Linked DNA regions of Homo sapiens. The protein of the gene in region 2 purifies or fractionates together with the protein of the main gene of each other region. This does not show direct contact. Each region holds a gene or a part of one and is shown on either strand. Other genes may lie near its edges.

The links. Proteins that work in one complex are often made in the same cells at the same time.
Region 1: the proteins of HS1BP3 (region 2) and ACOX1 purify together in Homo sapiens (affinity purification with mass spectrometry; one large-scale study listed by BioGRID and IntAct). This does not show direct contact.
Region 3: the proteins of HS1BP3 (region 2) and NARF purify together in Homo sapiens (affinity purification with mass spectrometry; one large-scale study listed by BioGRID and IntAct). This does not show direct contact.
Region 4: the proteins of HS1BP3 (region 2) and TCHH purify together in Homo sapiens (affinity purification with mass spectrometry; one large-scale study listed by BioGRID and IntAct). This does not show direct contact.

The regions. Positions count from the first base shown.
Region 1 is NC_000017.11:75,958,319-75,962,249, reverse strand, and holds part of ACOX1 (peroxisomal acyl-coenzyme A oxidase 1), read left to right. Parts: intron 1-1,874; coding exon 1,875-2,035; intron 2,036-3,931. UniProt on the Homo sapiens protein: Involved in the initial and rate-limiting step of peroxisomal beta-oxidation of straight-chain saturated and unsaturated very-long-chain fatty acids.
Region 2 is NC_000002.12:20,619,963-20,623,893, reverse strand, and holds part of HS1BP3 (HCLS1-binding protein 3), read left to right. Parts: intron 1-1,574; coding exon of another isoform or gene 1,575-1,596; exon of another isoform or gene 1,597-1,707; intron 1,708-3,931. UniProt on the Homo sapiens protein: May be a modulator of IL-2 signaling.
Region 3 is NC_000017.11:82,468,658-82,472,588, forward strand, and holds part of NARF (nuclear prelamin A recognition factor), read left to right. Parts: intron 1-106; coding exon 107-239; intron 240-3,906; coding exon 3,907-3,931.
Region 4 is NC_000001.11:152,105,469-152,109,213, reverse strand, and holds the end of TCHH (trichohyalin), read left to right. Parts: coding exon 1-1,829; 3' UTR 1,830-2,897; downstream 2,898-3,745. UniProt on the Homo sapiens protein: Intermediate filament-associated protein that associates in regular arrays with keratin intermediate filaments (KIF) of the inner root sheath cells of the hair follicle and the granular layer of the epidermis.

The sequences.
Region 1 (3,931 bases), on a different chromosome or scaffold from region 2:
AATCTGTAACTTGTCGTTATTATGGTCTTCACTAGAAATTGCATGTCTTTTTTAATTTCTGAAATAAATTATTGGGATGAAGAGCACTGTCAGTTTTTGTATTAAAGTGTTTCAGTAGAGCGTGGCCGAATATTTGACATGATGAATCTGAATGAAATGATCAGAGCTATGTGAGGAATATGGTTCTACGCTGGATGTTTTGTGGACAAAACAGAAAAAAAATCCCAGCCTAGAAGCATTATTGAAATTGCATCGAGGAAAAACTATAATCTGGGGGTCATACTGTCACTCTGAGAGAACTACTATGTTCTGTCTCGCTTTCTCATCAGAGGAAATCCTTGTACCAGTACCACTCAAATTCTCTGTTCTCCGACTCCTGGCTTCAAGCGATTCTGCCTCAGCATCCCAAGTAGCTGGGATTACAGGCACATGCCACCACACCCAGCAAATTCTCCATTCTATACAACTTTTTTTTTTTTTTTTTTTTTTTGAGACAGAGTCTCGCTCTGTTGCCCAGGCTGGAGTGCAGTGGTGTGATCTCGGCTCACTGCAACCACCGCCTCCCAGGTTCTCCTGCCTCAGTCTCCCAAGTAGCTTGGATTACAGGCATGTGCCACCACACCTGGCTGATTTTGTATATTTAGTAGAGATGGGGTCTCACCATGTTGGTCAGGCTGGTCTTGAACTCCTGACCTCAGGTGATCCGCCCACCTTGGCCTCTCAAAGTGCTGGGATTACAGGCATGAGCCACGGTGCCCGGCCTTTTTTTTTTTTTTTTTTTTTTGTATTTTTAGTAGAAACGGGATTTCACTATGTTGGCCAGGCTGGTCTCAAACTCCTGACCTCAAGTGATCCGCCTGCGTCAGCCTCCCAAAGTGCTAGGATTACAGGCATGAGCCACCATGCCTGGCCCTATACAACTTTTCAAATTCTCTCTCTCTTTTTTTTTTTTTTTTTGAGATGGAGTCTCACTGTGTCGCCCAGGCTAGAATGCAGTGGTGTTATCTTAGCTCACTGCAACCTCTGCCTCCTGGGTTGGAGCAATTCTCCTGCCTCAGCCTCCTGAGTAGCTGGGATTACAGGTGTGCACCACCATGCCTGCTTAATTTTTGTATTTTTAGTAGAGACAGGGTTTCGCCATGTTGGCCAGGCTGGTCTTGAACTCCTGACCTCAGGTGATCCACCCACCTCGGCCTCTCAGAGTGCTGAGATTATAGGTGGGAGCCACTGCACCTGGCCAATTCTCTCTTATTTATTTATTTATTTTTTTTGAGACAGAGTCTCACTCTGTCACCCAGGCTGGAATGCAGTGGGCATGATCTCGGCTCACTGCAACCTCCGCCTCCTAGGTTCAAGCGATTTTCCTGCCTCAGGCTCCCAAATAGCTGGGACTACTGGCTGGCGCCACCACGTTCAGCTGATTTTTGTATTTTTAGTAGAGTCAGGGCTTTGCCATGTTGGCCAGGCTGGTCTCGAACTCCTGACTTAAGGTGATCTGACCGCCTTGGCCTCCCAAAGTGCTGAGATTGTAGGCATGATCCACTGCACTGGCCTCTCAAATTTTCTTTATTTCCTTTGATTTAATTCCTGGGCGAGGATCCTCTGCCTTGCACGTGTGGTTTTGTGCTGCATTGGCTTTGGAATCAGTAACCAATCCCTGTCCTCGTACTCCTTGCCGACTCAGGAAAAATGGAAATTAACAAGAGCTATAAAGTAATACAGAAAGGGACAGTGCTCCCATCTATGATTAAGTGCACGCAACTAATTCATACTTAAGGTTTTTTTGTCTCCTTCCCTTGCTCTATTTAAATTGCTGATTCTCTCACACCTGATGACTCTTCTCTCAAATGCCCATCCTTGATATTTCCTCGAAGTTTTGTGCACCGAGGGCGGCCTGAGCCTCTGGATCTTCACTTGGGCATGTTCCTGCCCACCTTGCTTCACCAGGCAACTGCGGAGCAGCAGGAGCGCTTCTTCATGCCCGCCTGGAACTTGGAGATCATTGGCACTTATGCCCAGACAGAGATGGGTCATGGTATGGAGTATTCAGTCTACCTTCTGGGTTGGGCGGGCCCCTGTGAGCTTACCATGTGTGGAGTGCCCACCATGTGCCATCGATGGTGTGTCGATGTTCTATGGTCTGTTTAAATGAGCTCTTTCTGCAGAGTCCAGGTTTTGGTATAAACACTGCTTTGGTGAGTGGGAATTAAAGACCATGATACTGATAAAATGATTGTCCTTTTTATACCATAGTTCCCCTTCAGAGGGTCAAGAATTGCAAATCAGGCCTTATTTACCAAGTGGTTTTTCAATGTTACTGAGGTTGTATAGAATCTGTGTGCATATACAACCCGAAGCTGTTTTTTTCTTCATTACTATCTGATTACCTTTACTACTGATACCTTAATGAGTACAAATTCCAGAAGAAATACAAATAATAGTTTGTGTACTCTTGGATTTGCTTGAGGGAAATGAGTAGCTTATAACTGACGTGTGTGACATTTTGGAGTTATTTGTACTTTGAGTCAATCAGTAGTTCTGCAAGTGACTTGGCTGGAGAGTGAAAAAACCAAGATAAGCCGAACTTGCAGGCATTTGGTTTCAGACTCTGTATCTCCACCTTTCATTGATCTTTCCACCCCCCACCTGCTTTCTTCATGCACCTGGGTGGGCTGGAGGTGGCCGCTGTTCCTCTTTGTATCTTCTCTGAATTGGGTCCGTGTTTGCCATTCATTTGCTTATGGCTTCTCTTTTTCTGCTCTGACGTTTCAGAAAAACTGGTCTAGTGTGTATTTGCCACTTGCTCCTTATTTCTATACAGCTGCTGCTTTTTATTTGGTGTTGAATAGTATTTTACAGGATTTTCATGAGACTCCAAGTGGAATACTATTTGTTTCAGTTGTGCTTTTGAAAACATTTTGTCCTTATCTGTTCTGTTTAATGTTATCTGCTTTTCTGTAAAAGCTGCTTCTTTGATGAAAGATGTCTGTGTCTGATTTGTTGACTCCCACTCGGGAAAGTTGTGGATTGCACATAAGTTGGTTATTCAACTTGGAAGCTTCTAAATGTTTCAAAGTGTGTTTAATGAGGTCTAAGCGTTATGAAAGCAGATTGGTAAAAGGTTCCCAACGTTTGCTTTAGTACAGTATTTTTGTAGAGACTGCCACCTAGAACATTTTTCTATGACTCTTTTCAAATAATTTTGATATATTTGTGTTAAGATTTAAAACATAAGATCCTGTCTATCCCAGTACACATAAGAAACTGGAAACTCTTCCTTGCCACATTAATGAACCAGCAGGACTAAGTTAGGCCTGCCATTGGAAATCTCTAGGGTCAACTGAGACCTTATTATTGGACCTTTAGGAATTTTTAAAAGTCACATTTCAGGTCATTTCCCCAATAACAGTTATACTTTTATACTTTTTTTTTTTTTTTTTTTGAGACGGAGTCGTGCTCTGTCGCCCAGGCTGGAGTGCAGTGGCGCGATCTCAGCTCACTGCAAGCTCCACCTTCCGGGTTCACGCCATTCTCCTGCCTCAGCCTCCCGAGTAGCTGGGACTACAGGCACCCACCACCATGCCCAGCTAATTTTTTGTATTTTTAGTAGAGACGGGGTTTCGCCGTGTTAACCAGGATGGTCTCGATCTCCTGACTTTGTGATCCGCCCGCCTTGGCCCCCCAAAGTGCTGGGATTACAGGCGTGAGCCACCGTGCCCAGCTTTAATTTTTTTGTTGTTTTTTTAGTAGAGACGGGGTTTCACCACTTTAGCCAGGATGGTCTCAATCTCCTGACCTCGTGATCCCCCCACCTCGGCCTCCCAAAGTGCTGGGATTACAGGCTTGAGCCACTGTGCCTGGCCTTTTTCTTTTTCTTTTTCTTTTTTTTTTTTTTTTGAGATGGAGTCTTGCTCTGCCACCCAGGCTGGAG
Region 2 (3,931 bases):
ACCACCTGTCCCCAGCGGCGCTTGGCCAGCTCTGAGAGTGTTCTGGACAGAGCCAAGGGCCCGGCTCATTGCCCAGTCTCAGCCCCAGCCTCCTCTGAGGGGAGGACCCCAGGCCTGTGAAAAGTAGAAGCCTGTGGGTGCACATTGGGTGAGAGGCGGTGAAGGGGGCTGAGGGGGAGGATCCGCAGCCCAGGGCTGCTCAGCTAGTTCCAGAAAGAGAGAACTTTGTGTGCACAACCAGTCTTTCTTTTCACAATCATATTTTAACAGTTTATGTAAAGAATAATTAAATTATATAATTGCAAGAGCAGGTATAACTGGCATAAGCAAGTTTGGGAACAAATTAAACGGACTCATGGCAGCATGCAGCCCACCCAGCGAGGGGGCAAAGTGCAGATGTCTTGGTGATGGCCTCTCTGCCGGAGGGCCCGGTCGGCAGCTTTCACAGAAGGAAGGGAGAATGAGGCCTCAGCTGTCACATGGAGGTCAATTGGCAGAACCTGTGCCGGTGACAGCTCCTATTTCCTGAGTCCTTGCTGTGTACGCAGTAAGCCAGACTCCTTACACGCTCTCTTATGTAATCTTCACGACAGCCCCCTAAGGTGGATGCTATTTTCTCCATATTATAAGAAATCAAGTGTGGGACGCCACCTGGCTAAGACCCCTGCTCTGCCCCTGGCCTGGCCTCTCCACTTCATCAGGGACTGTCTGAGCACTTGGCTGGGTGATCTGCCTCCCCACCCAGCCCCCCAGTTCTCCCCAGGCCTTTACCTCCACTGGCCACATTCTCAGCAGACTCAGTGTTGTGCGTGTCTCCAGCTCCCACTCCATGCTCCAGGACACAGGACTGTGCCTGGGATTCAGAGGAAGCCAGGCCGCCTCTTTCCAGGAACGGCTTATGTGACACCAAGGCATGCAGGCCCTGGAGGCTGTCATCTGTACCCCTCATTAGCAGCCTCGGGCTATTAGACAGCCCTGCAAGTGCCCGCCAAGCCTGAGTCACCGTGACGGCTTCTGGTATTTACATGTCCCCAAGGCCCCTGGCATCTGTTCACTCTCATCCTGTGTCCTCGCTCCTGACATCCCAGCGGGCTGGAAGAAACCAGGATTGTTATTTTATTAGAGGGAAACCGAGGCACAGGGAAATGAAATACTAGAGTCTGCCTGCGGAGCAGCAGGGCCAGGCCGAGCATGTCTAGGAGTCCATGTGTCCCAGTGGGGTGGCTCTCGTGGGACCTTTCTGGCCTAGTTTATTCTAAATCCGTTACTTCCCAACCTGTGTTCTGCAGAACGTGGTACAGTGGGGTGGTCAAAGGCTATCTTCAAAGGGGCTCTGTGGCTGATGAATTGGGGAAATGCCACAAAAAGCAGGGCTCGTAGTGCGCGGGCCAGCACCACATGGCACTTCACGTTCTCATTCATCCCTGGGCCCCCCACTCTGTGGTGCCCCTTAGCATCCCGCAGAGCGCTTGGGGAGTCCCTGCTCAAAAAGTGTGGGTCCCGCACCCCCACCTTCACTTTAGCAGACATCTGCTAATGAAAGGATTAACTGCTTTTCTTTTTTTTAAATTCAGACAAATTCAAAAAGAGCCGTAACACTGGGATTAGCTTCTTGAGAGCAGGAACCACATTCATTCTTTGTGTCTGCCCTGTGACTATCCAGGGAGTAGTTGGACTTCCTCATAATAAAGAATGTTCTGATAGCCATTCATTCATTCATGCTTTCACCCCTTCGTTCATTCTGTCACTAGCCTCAGCCACCCTGAGGCCGCGTGGGGTGTACACTGAGCGGGTCGAGGCTAAGAAGGCTTTGTTCCTTCTGGCTGTGCAGCCACACCAGGGCAGGGCCTCTAGTCTAGATGTTTAGGTGAGTCTTGTCTTCCGCAGGAACCCAGGGAGAAGGAATGGGGCCAGGGTCTTAGAGCTCCCTTACCCCCCACTGGTTGACCTCACACCAGCTGGGCCTGGAGGAGAAAAGAGCTGGACCTTGCGCTAGTGAGAGCTAGTCCTAGTCATGACTCAGAAATAGGGTGCTTGGAAAAGGGGTGCCTTGCAGCCTCCTGTGTCCCAAGAGCAGCTATGCTGCCTCCCACCGTGGCTGACCACCCGTGTACACCACCCACCTGGGAGCAAATCCAGCTGCTGATTAGTTCCAAAGAGTCACTGCTTTGCCAAGCAGGCTAATCCTGAAATCTGACATAAGCCTCTAGCGGCTGCTTTATTTTCCAAAGGGCCCCTATTTGAGGATAATTCAGTCCCTTTGAGCTTTTCCCAGGTACCCTCAGCCTTCAATGGAGGCTGCATCATGCCAGTGGAGCTGGCACCTGCCCTGGGGGAGTCAAGGAAGGGCTGCCACTTGGAGGGAGCTCCGGAACATCTGACCTGAGGTGGCCAGGAGCAGACTGGCCATGAGTGACACCTCCTGAAATCACCTCTACCCCAAGACAGCTGGTCTGTCTATGAAGGCCCGGCTTGGGCCAGTCCCTCTGGGTTTGTTCAAGAAGGACACCTTTTATTCATTTCTCTGCCATCCAAACAGACTCTGAATTCTCTCTCTGGGGTTTGTGCCCCATCACAGGAGGTTGAGCCAGGAAGCAGGCAGGGTGTCCGGAGCTCCTTCCACAGCTGGCTCCAGGCAGGCATCCACCCCTGGGGGTGCTGTGCTGGACACCTCCATACTCACACAGGCTCTCTGGTAGTGCCAGGAGTTGTCCTGATCAGAGGTATCGCCTCTCTATCCCCACCCCTGCCCGGCCCTGCCCCAGGGCAAGAAGCCGCTGCTCATGAGCCTGCCTGGTTCTTCCTGTTCATTCTCATTCCCACCTCCAGACCTCTGCTGTCTGCTCCCTTCTTCAGAATTCTCTCCCCTATTCATGCCAGGCTCACCCTTCTGAAAAGACCCACCTTCCCAGGAGGCCTTCCCAGCCTGCTCTGGCCCAAGGGCTCACTCCCTTCTCTGGACTTCAACACCTTCTTTCCAGGCCTTTGCAATTATGTGGCCCCTGTCTGACTGGGCTGGGGGGTGTCCCTCATTGTAGGTGGAGGCACTGCTTTTCTGTGTCTTATGCCCACTTGCTCAGCCCCTGTGGCTGTCAGTAGACATCAGTACATACAGCCTTCCTGTACATTTGGAAACTACTTTCCTTGTGTTGTCTTATTTGATCCTTGTAAGAATCCCTGTGAGGATGGTAGAGCAAGTACAATCCCACTTTATAGAAGAGACTGAGGACCAGGGAGGAGGAGTGGCCTGAGGCTGCCTGATGGAGGAGTTGCAGGGTGAGGAACGGAAGCCAGTTCTCCTCCTGCAGTGCTGTGCTTCTGTGTACAGTTCCGTGCAGCAGTGCCAGTGACACTGTTACTCCTGCTTGTAGATGAGGAAGCCGAAGCTTGTAGAGACCAAGTGGGTGCTACAGGTCTTCTGCCTTCACTCACCTGATTCCAGCATGGCTGAGCGATAGACGTAGAGATGCCCGTTAGCACAAGGGAAAACCTCGCCGTGACACTGGAGTCTAGGTGCCCCAGCCAGGGGAACACACCCCAGAGAACCAGCCACATGCAGGCCAAGTCCTGTTCATCCTCACACTAGCTGTGGGTCTCAGGGCAAGGCCCTTTGCCTCTCTGCACCTCAGTATTCTCAGCTGTAAAACGGGGCTAATCTCTGCGACCACACAGTGTTTGGAGATTATTGAATGGGTTAATGAATGTGGAAATGTCTGGCCATCACGGGTGTTCAGCACAGAGCTGAGTGGGTGGAATGGATTGAATGAGTCTTCCACTGTGCATCTGGTCTCCAGAAATCAAGTTCTGGAGAATCAGTGGCCTGGCCTGTTTCTTGCCCTCAGTACCCAGGGATGGTCCTGAGTGACCGTAACACTGCCAGGGCTTTTTGCCCACCCACCAGTGGGAGATTAGAGGTCTGGGGTCATGACAG
Region 3 (3,931 bases), on a different chromosome or scaffold from region 2:
TGCATAGACCATCTATTAACGTTGTTCTGAATTTCTCATTAAGGTGTGTAACTTTTACTCCTTGTGTAATCAGCAGATACCTAACATTCTCTATTTCTCCTTCTAGAAATGTGATACCTCAAAGCACAAAGTGCTGGTAGTGTCTGTGTGTCCTCAATCTTTGCCTTATTTTGCTGCTAAATTCAACCTCAGTGTAACTGATGCATCCAGAAGACTCTGTGGTTTCCTCAAAAGTCTTGGTGAGTCATCTTTTGATAAATTGGGAATGTATAACTTGAGTTTATAAGCGCCCTTTTTAATCTCTAAAGTTCGTTTTTCAAGGACGCAGGGTAGATAAGCAACTTCCAAAAGAGTCTCTTGGAACGTAAAAAGACCATGTCCCGTGTGTCATGAAACCCAGCCTCTGATCGATGGTAGACGAGTGTCACTTTTCTCCTTTGCTGTGCACAGACAGGTGTTTTGTTACACAGTGGGAGCTGACCCCTCTGGGACCAAACAGTGACCACCTTCTGACAACACGGACAGGACACTGGGAGATTCCCACACTGGCCCAGCAACCTCCAAGTCACCCCTTACCCCCAGAGGGTGTGCATTTGATAAACAGTCACTTCTGAAATGATTAGTATCTGGTTTCCCAAGAAGCTCTCTGAAGAGCAGAGCAGAAAGGGAATGGGCTTGTGTTCTTTACTTGAGGAATGAAAGGTAGAAATTTAAGAATATAATAAAAGAACTCGGATGTCAACGCTGGAATAGTACTACCTGAAATGTTGATGGATGATGCTTCTGCGTCTTCTGCTTTGGTCAAAGGGGAACTGCCTCCCTCCATTTGCTTATAGAGGGGCTTTTACAGCCTTGAGCATCCTCATAGCATGATGGTCAGTGTGCAAGTTCAGAAAGGGAAAATGAGCGAGTTGCCAAATAAGAGGTTTTTTTTGTTGTTTGTTTGTTTGTTTGTTTGTTTTTTGAGCTGGAGTCTCGCTCTTGGTGCCCCAGGCTGGAGTGCAATGATGCGATCTTGGCTCACTGCAACCTCCGCCTCCCGGGTTCAAGAGATTCTCCTGCCTCAGCCTCCCAAGTAGCTGGGACTACAGGTGCGCGCCACCACTCCCGGCTAATTTTTGTATTTTTAGTAGAGATGATGTTTCACCATGTTGGCCAGGATGGTCTTAATCTCTTGACCTCGTGATCCACCCGCCTTGGCCTCCCAAAGTGCTGGGATTACAGGCATGTGCCACCGTGCCTGGCCAAGAGTTTTTATTATTCTACAGCGGCTTTTAAAAATTATAAATATTGGTCAGGTTTGGTGGCTCATGCCTGTAATCCCAGCACTTTGGAAGGCCAAGACCAGAAGATTACTTGAGGCCAGGAGCTCGAGACCAGCCTCGACAACATAACAAGATCCTATCTCTGCTAAATAAGTACATAAATGTAGATATATTGGGGATTACTGGTGAAATAAAATGATATTTGGAATAAGGATCATCAGGACAGGCTTGAAGTCTAAGCAGCAGCCTGGGGGTCCTGATGCTCCCTGTGCCCTAGGCGCCTGGGCTCTAACAAGACCTGGTCATCTAGCACATAATGTGCTGCAGCTGAAACCCAGCTACAGCGACAGGTGCCCACACGTTAGGTCGCTCCTTCATGCTTGTCATCATAAAGCCTCGGGTTAGGTTAGTTACACTGAAGATCAGAGTTGTCAAATGCTATATATTCTCACGATGAAAGCCCTTATTTGGGGCTAGATTCTTAAAATGATGTAACGGAATGTTATATATCAATAAAATGTATCCACAGTAAAATGGATTTCTTAATGTAATATTTTAAAATTTATAATATTTCTTTTTTTGTTGTTCTTGAGACGGAGTCTTGATCTGTCACCCAGGCTGGGGTGCAGTGGCGCCATCTCGGCTCACTGCAAGCTCCACCTCCCGGGTTCACACCATTCTCCTGCCTCAGCCTCCCGAGTGGCTGGGACTACAGGCGCCCGCCACCACGCCCGGCTAATTTTTTGTATTTTTAGTAAAGATGGGGTTTCACCATGTTAGCCAGGATGGTCTCGATCTCCTGACCTCATGATCTAACCGCCTTGGACTCCCAAAGTACTGGGATTCCAGGGGTGAGCCACCGTGCCCAGCCTAATATTTATTATAGCTAGTTGCATTTTCTCTCAGCTTTGTTACCTGGGGAGGGGGAGAAACAAAAAATTTAAAATTAAAAAAATCAGGCCGGGTGTGGTGGCTCATGTCTGTAATCCCAGCACTTTGGGAGGCCGAGGGGGCAGATCACCTGAGGTCAGGAGTTTGAGACCAGCCTGGCCCAACATGGCAAAACCCCATCTCCACTAAAAATACAAAAATTAGCCTGGCATGGTGGCAGACACCTGTAATCCCAGCTACTCGGGAGGCTGAGGCACAAGAATCGCTCAGACCCAGGAAGCAGAGGTTTGCGGTGAGTTGAGATTGCGTCACCACACTCCAGCCTGGGTGACAGAGCATGACTGTCTGAAAAAAAAAAAAGGCTGGGCATGTTGGCTCACGCCTGTAATCCCAGCACTTTGGGAGGCCGAGGTGGGCGGATCACGAGGTCAGGAGATTGAGACCATCCTGGCTAACGCAGTGAAACTCTGTCTCTACTAAAAATTCAAAAAAGTAGCCGGGCGTGGTGACGGGCGCCTGTAGTCCCAGCTACTTGGGAGGCCGAAGCAGGAGAATGGTGTGAACCTGGGAGGCGGAGCTTGCAGTGAGCCGAGATCACGCCACTGCACTCCAGCCTGGGCAACAGGGCGAGACACTGTCTCAAAAAAAAAAAAAAAAATTCAGTATAAAAATTTAAGCCATTATAAAAGTATGCCCTTGCCGGGCGCGGTGGCTCACGCCTGTAATCCCAGCACTTTGGGAGGCCGAGGCGGGCGGATCACGAGGTCAGGAGATCGAGACCATCCTGGCTAACACGGTGAAACCCCATCTCTACTAAAAATACAAAAAATTAGCCGGGCGTGGTGGTGGGCGCCTGTAGTCCCAGCTACTCGGGAGGCTGAGGCAGGAGAATGGCATGAACCCAAGAGGCGGAGCTTGCAGTGAGCCGGGATAGCGCCACTGCAGTCCAGCTTGCGCGAAAGAGTGAGACTCCGTCTCAAAAAAAAAAAAAAAAGTATGCCCAGCCATTCTATACTTTTACTGTACGTTCTACTTTTAAACACATCAAGAACCATCACAGACTGAAATTTAATTTGCCTGTGAATTGGAAGGGAATGCTGTGGGTACGTTGTAATATTTCATTAATTTATATATGGAGTAAGGTGTTTTAAAATGTAGAGAGGGAAGAAGCATGAGAGAGAACATACATATTTCATTGTGAAAAATCATACACGCTCATTGTTTACAAAATAAAAGGTAAAGCACACGGTCTTGAACTTAGGCCGTTAGGAATAGATAAGAACCAAGACTGATTTTATTATCTTAGGAGGGATGCCTGTAGAATCTATGCTTTAAGTTTGTCTCTTAAACGTGAGAAAGCAAAAATGAGTAAGAATGAAGAAGTATTGGCTGGATGCAGTGGTTCACGCCTGTAATTCCAGCACTCTGGGAGGCCAAGGTGGGTAGATCACTTGAGGCTAGGAATTCAAGACCAGCCTGGCCAACATGGTGAAACCTCATCTCTACTAAAAAATACAAAAATTGGCCAGGCATGATGGCGGGCACCTGTAATCCCAGTTACTCGGGAGACTGAGGTGGGAGGATCACTTGAACCTGGGAGGCGGAGGTTGCAGTGAGCCGAGATTATGCCACTGCACTCTAGCCTGGGTGACAGAACGAGACTCCGTCTCAAAAAAAAAAAAAAAGAGGAAGCCTAAAAGTAGATCTTTTAGTACGTGATTTAAGCTGAATATGCTCCTCTCTCCTGCAGGGGTGCACTATGTATTTGATACGAC
Region 4 (3,745 bases), on a different chromosome or scaffold from region 2:
ACAGAAAATTCCGCGAGGAGGAACAGCTGCTCCAGGAAAGGGAGGAACAGCCGCTGCGCCGCCAAGAGCGTGACAGAAAATTCCGCGAAGAGGAACTGCGCCATCAGGAACAAGGGAGAAAATTCCTCGAGGAGGAACAGCGGCTGCGCCGCCAGGAACGGGAGAGAAAATTCCTTAAGGAGGAACAGCAGCTGCGCTGCCAGGAGCGCGAGCAACAGCTGCGTCAGGACCGCGACAGAAAATTCCGCGAGGAGGAACAGCAGCTGAGCCGCCAAGAGCGTGACAGAAAATTCCGTGAAGAGGAACAGCAGGTGCGCCGCCAGGAACGAGAGAGAAAATTCCTGGAGGAGGAACAGCAGCTGCGCCAGGAGCGTCACAGAAAATTCCGCGAAGAGGAACAGCTGCTCCAGGAAAGGGAAGAACAGCAGCTGCACCGCCAAGAGCGTGACAGAAAATTCCTGGAGGAGGAACAACAGCTGCGCCGCCAAGAGCGTGACAGAAAATTCCGCGAACAGGAACTGCGCAGTCAGGAACCAGAGAGAAAATTCCTCGAGGAGGAACAGCAGCTGCACCGCCAGCAACGGCAGAGAAAATTCCTCCAGGAGGAACAGCAGCTGCGCCGCCAGGAGCGCGGGCAACAGCGGCGTCAGGACCGTGACAGAAAATTCCGCGAGGAGGAACAGCTGCGCCAGGAGAGGGAGGAACAGCAGCTGAGCCGCCAAGAGCGTGACAGAAAATTCCGTTTAGAGGAACAGAAAGTGCGCCGCCAGGAACAAGAGAGAAAATTCATGGAGGACGAACAGCAGCTGCGCCGCCAGGAGGGCCAACAACAGCTGCGCCAGGAGCGCGACAGAAAATTCCGCGAAGACGAACAGCTGCTCCAGGAAAGGGAAGAACAGCAGCTGCACCGCCAAGAGCGTGACAGAAAATTCCTCGAGGAGGAACCGCAGCTGCGCCGCCAGGAGCGCGAACAACAGCTGCGTCACGACCGCGACAGAAAATTCCGTGAAGAGGAACAGCTGCTCCAGGAAGGGGAGGAACAGCAGCTGCGCCGCCAAGAGCGTGACAGAAAATTCCGCGAAGAGGAACAGCAGCTCCGCCGTCAGGAACGAGAGAGAAAATTCCTCCAGGAGGAACAGCAGCTGCGCCGCCAGGAACTGGAGAGAAAATTCCGTGAGGAGGAACAGCTGCGCCAAGAAACGGAGCAAGAGCAGCTGCGCCGCCAAGAACGCTACAGAAAAATCCTAGAGGAAGAGCAGCTCCGTCCGGAAAGGGAAGAACAGCAGCTGCGCCGCCAGGAGCGCGACAGAAAATTCCGCGAGGAGGAACAGCTCCGCCAGGAGAGGGAGGAACAGCAGCTGCGCAGCCAAGAGTCTGACAGAAAATTCCGCGAGGAGGAACAGCTACGCCAGGAGAGGGAAGAACAGCAGCTGCGCCCCCAACAGCGTGACGGAAAGTATCGCTGGGAAGAAGAGCAGCTCCAACTTGAGGAACAAGAGCAGAGGCTGCGGCAGGAGCGAGACCGGCAGTACCGGGCGGAGGAGCAGTTTGCCACGCAGGAGAAGAGTCGTCGTGAGGAACAAGAACTATGGCAAGAAGAGGAGCAGAAACGTCGCCAGGAACGGGAAAGGAAATTACGGGAAGAACACATCCGCCGCCAGCAGAAGGAGGAACAGAGGCACCGCCAAGTCGGGGAGATAAAATCCCAAGAAGGGAAGGGCCATGGGCGGCTTCTGGAGCCCGGCACTCATCAGTTTGCCAGTGTCCCAGTGCGCTCCAGCCCTCTCTATGAGTACATCCAAGAGCAGAGATCTCAATACCGCCCTTAAGTGATGTTGCCAATATCTTGACACCTGCCAAAGCTTCGAGCACGGGAAAATGAGAAACACTGGGTACCAAGTGATAACTCAGATGTTTCTGGTTGTGGGAAAACTCTCTGATATTAGAATGTCTTTTCTTCCAAAATCTTAAACTACGCTCATTTTACGCACTTTGTACTTCTGCTTTTTATTCTTCCTCAAGTAGTTCTTTACTGCAAGATGTCTTTCTTTTGCTCTTTGATGCAGATGTGGTGTGCATTTAAAAAAAATATAAATCATTTAATTTGTTTAAGAAATTTTGTTTGAGGAACATGTTCATTTATTGCTTTCAGAAGTAACAAGAGTAATAGGATGATTTGAGATTCTAAACAATGGGTCGGTTTGTTTAATGACTGACCCATCTTGTGGAAAGTGCAGATACTTTTAATGTTCAAGTTGCTATTTCTTCTTGAACCTAAATTGATCATTGCCTCCAAACAGCATTTCATCTTTTGTGGCATAGTTAGCACAAATTCCAGGTAACTAAATTTTTATAACCCTTGAATAGTGCAGGGGGAGTGACCTCTGCATAAAAACTTCCTGTAAAATCAGCCCATTACTGGAAGAAATATCTGTTAAGAATAGGTTTAGCTTTGAAGATTTAGAATTTAAATTAGATTTTTTTTAAACTCAACTCCACTTAAACACATAATCTCATGAAGAAATAATGAGGTGTTTCTCAACTTCAGAGTTCAAATTTTAAAACTGTGTCTGTTGTAGTCTATAGTGTTCATTCTACTTCCCCAAGTTTTGATGAGTTTCAGAATATTATGAACCTTTGTTAATTTTAGCTTGTTAGAAGGAAGCTGCTCAGAATCCCATAAACATCTGTCTTACTCTAGGGCCAATAAGAGATCACATAGAGCATGTTGGGGGTGTAAAAGGGAAAAATGTGTGAACATAGGGGCAAATTTCTAGAGGCCCTTTGACAAGACCCATTTGCCCACAATCATTTGAGGCCTATTGATAATACCTTAGATATATTCTTGTTGAAATAATTGGACTGTGAAAAATTAATAATAAATGTTTGGCAAGTAACTACTTTTGTCTGTTTTAACTCTGCGTCAATCATAACAAGATCTCATTGTCTGGAAACTAACACAAGTTCCCAATCACATAAGGGCATTTTGTTACTTATCTATGTCCAAATACGAAAAAAGAGGGGAGAGAATTCTTTGTTTTTCCCCAACCTTTTTTTTTTTTTTTTTTTTTTTTTTTTTTGCAGTTAGGCTGAACTCTATTTCCATCCCCACACTGAGATTGCCTTCCAGAGTGTTTTTGTTCTTGACCCCACAGCTTTCTATGCCATTTCTTGCAGCGACTCACTGGTCATGACAAATACTGGTGCTCCCAATATTTGTTAATATTTCCTTTAGAGAATGCAGCAGCTTCTTAGTCTCTGATGTCTGATGAGCCAATGATAGAAAATGGCCTGAAACTTCAGATCAGCACTATAAAAACTGTAGATGTCCTGTTAATTTAAGCAACATAATCCATGAGGTGACTGAGTCAGAAGGTACTTAATAGTAATCAGGCTGAAGTATCAAATTATTATCTTGTTAGATAATAATTTATTAGATAATAACAAACACGCCTGTGCTGCCTGCTGGATTCTTATTTTTAGTATTCATAGTTTACTAACTAGAAATAAGCCCAAGAAGGCCCTGATCAAAACAATGTCATTTCTAAGATCATGATGAGAAGATGCCCTAAAGTTATAGTCACTCAACATTTTGATCAGTGGTGGAGACAAGCTAGGCTTATGGCTCCTGAGTATCATTCTGATAGAGTAAGATGGCATTTTCTTCAAGAAGCACAGCTTCTCTCTCTCTCACTTTAACAAATGGCAGATGCCCACCAAAGACATAACCTGGGAATCCCCTGAC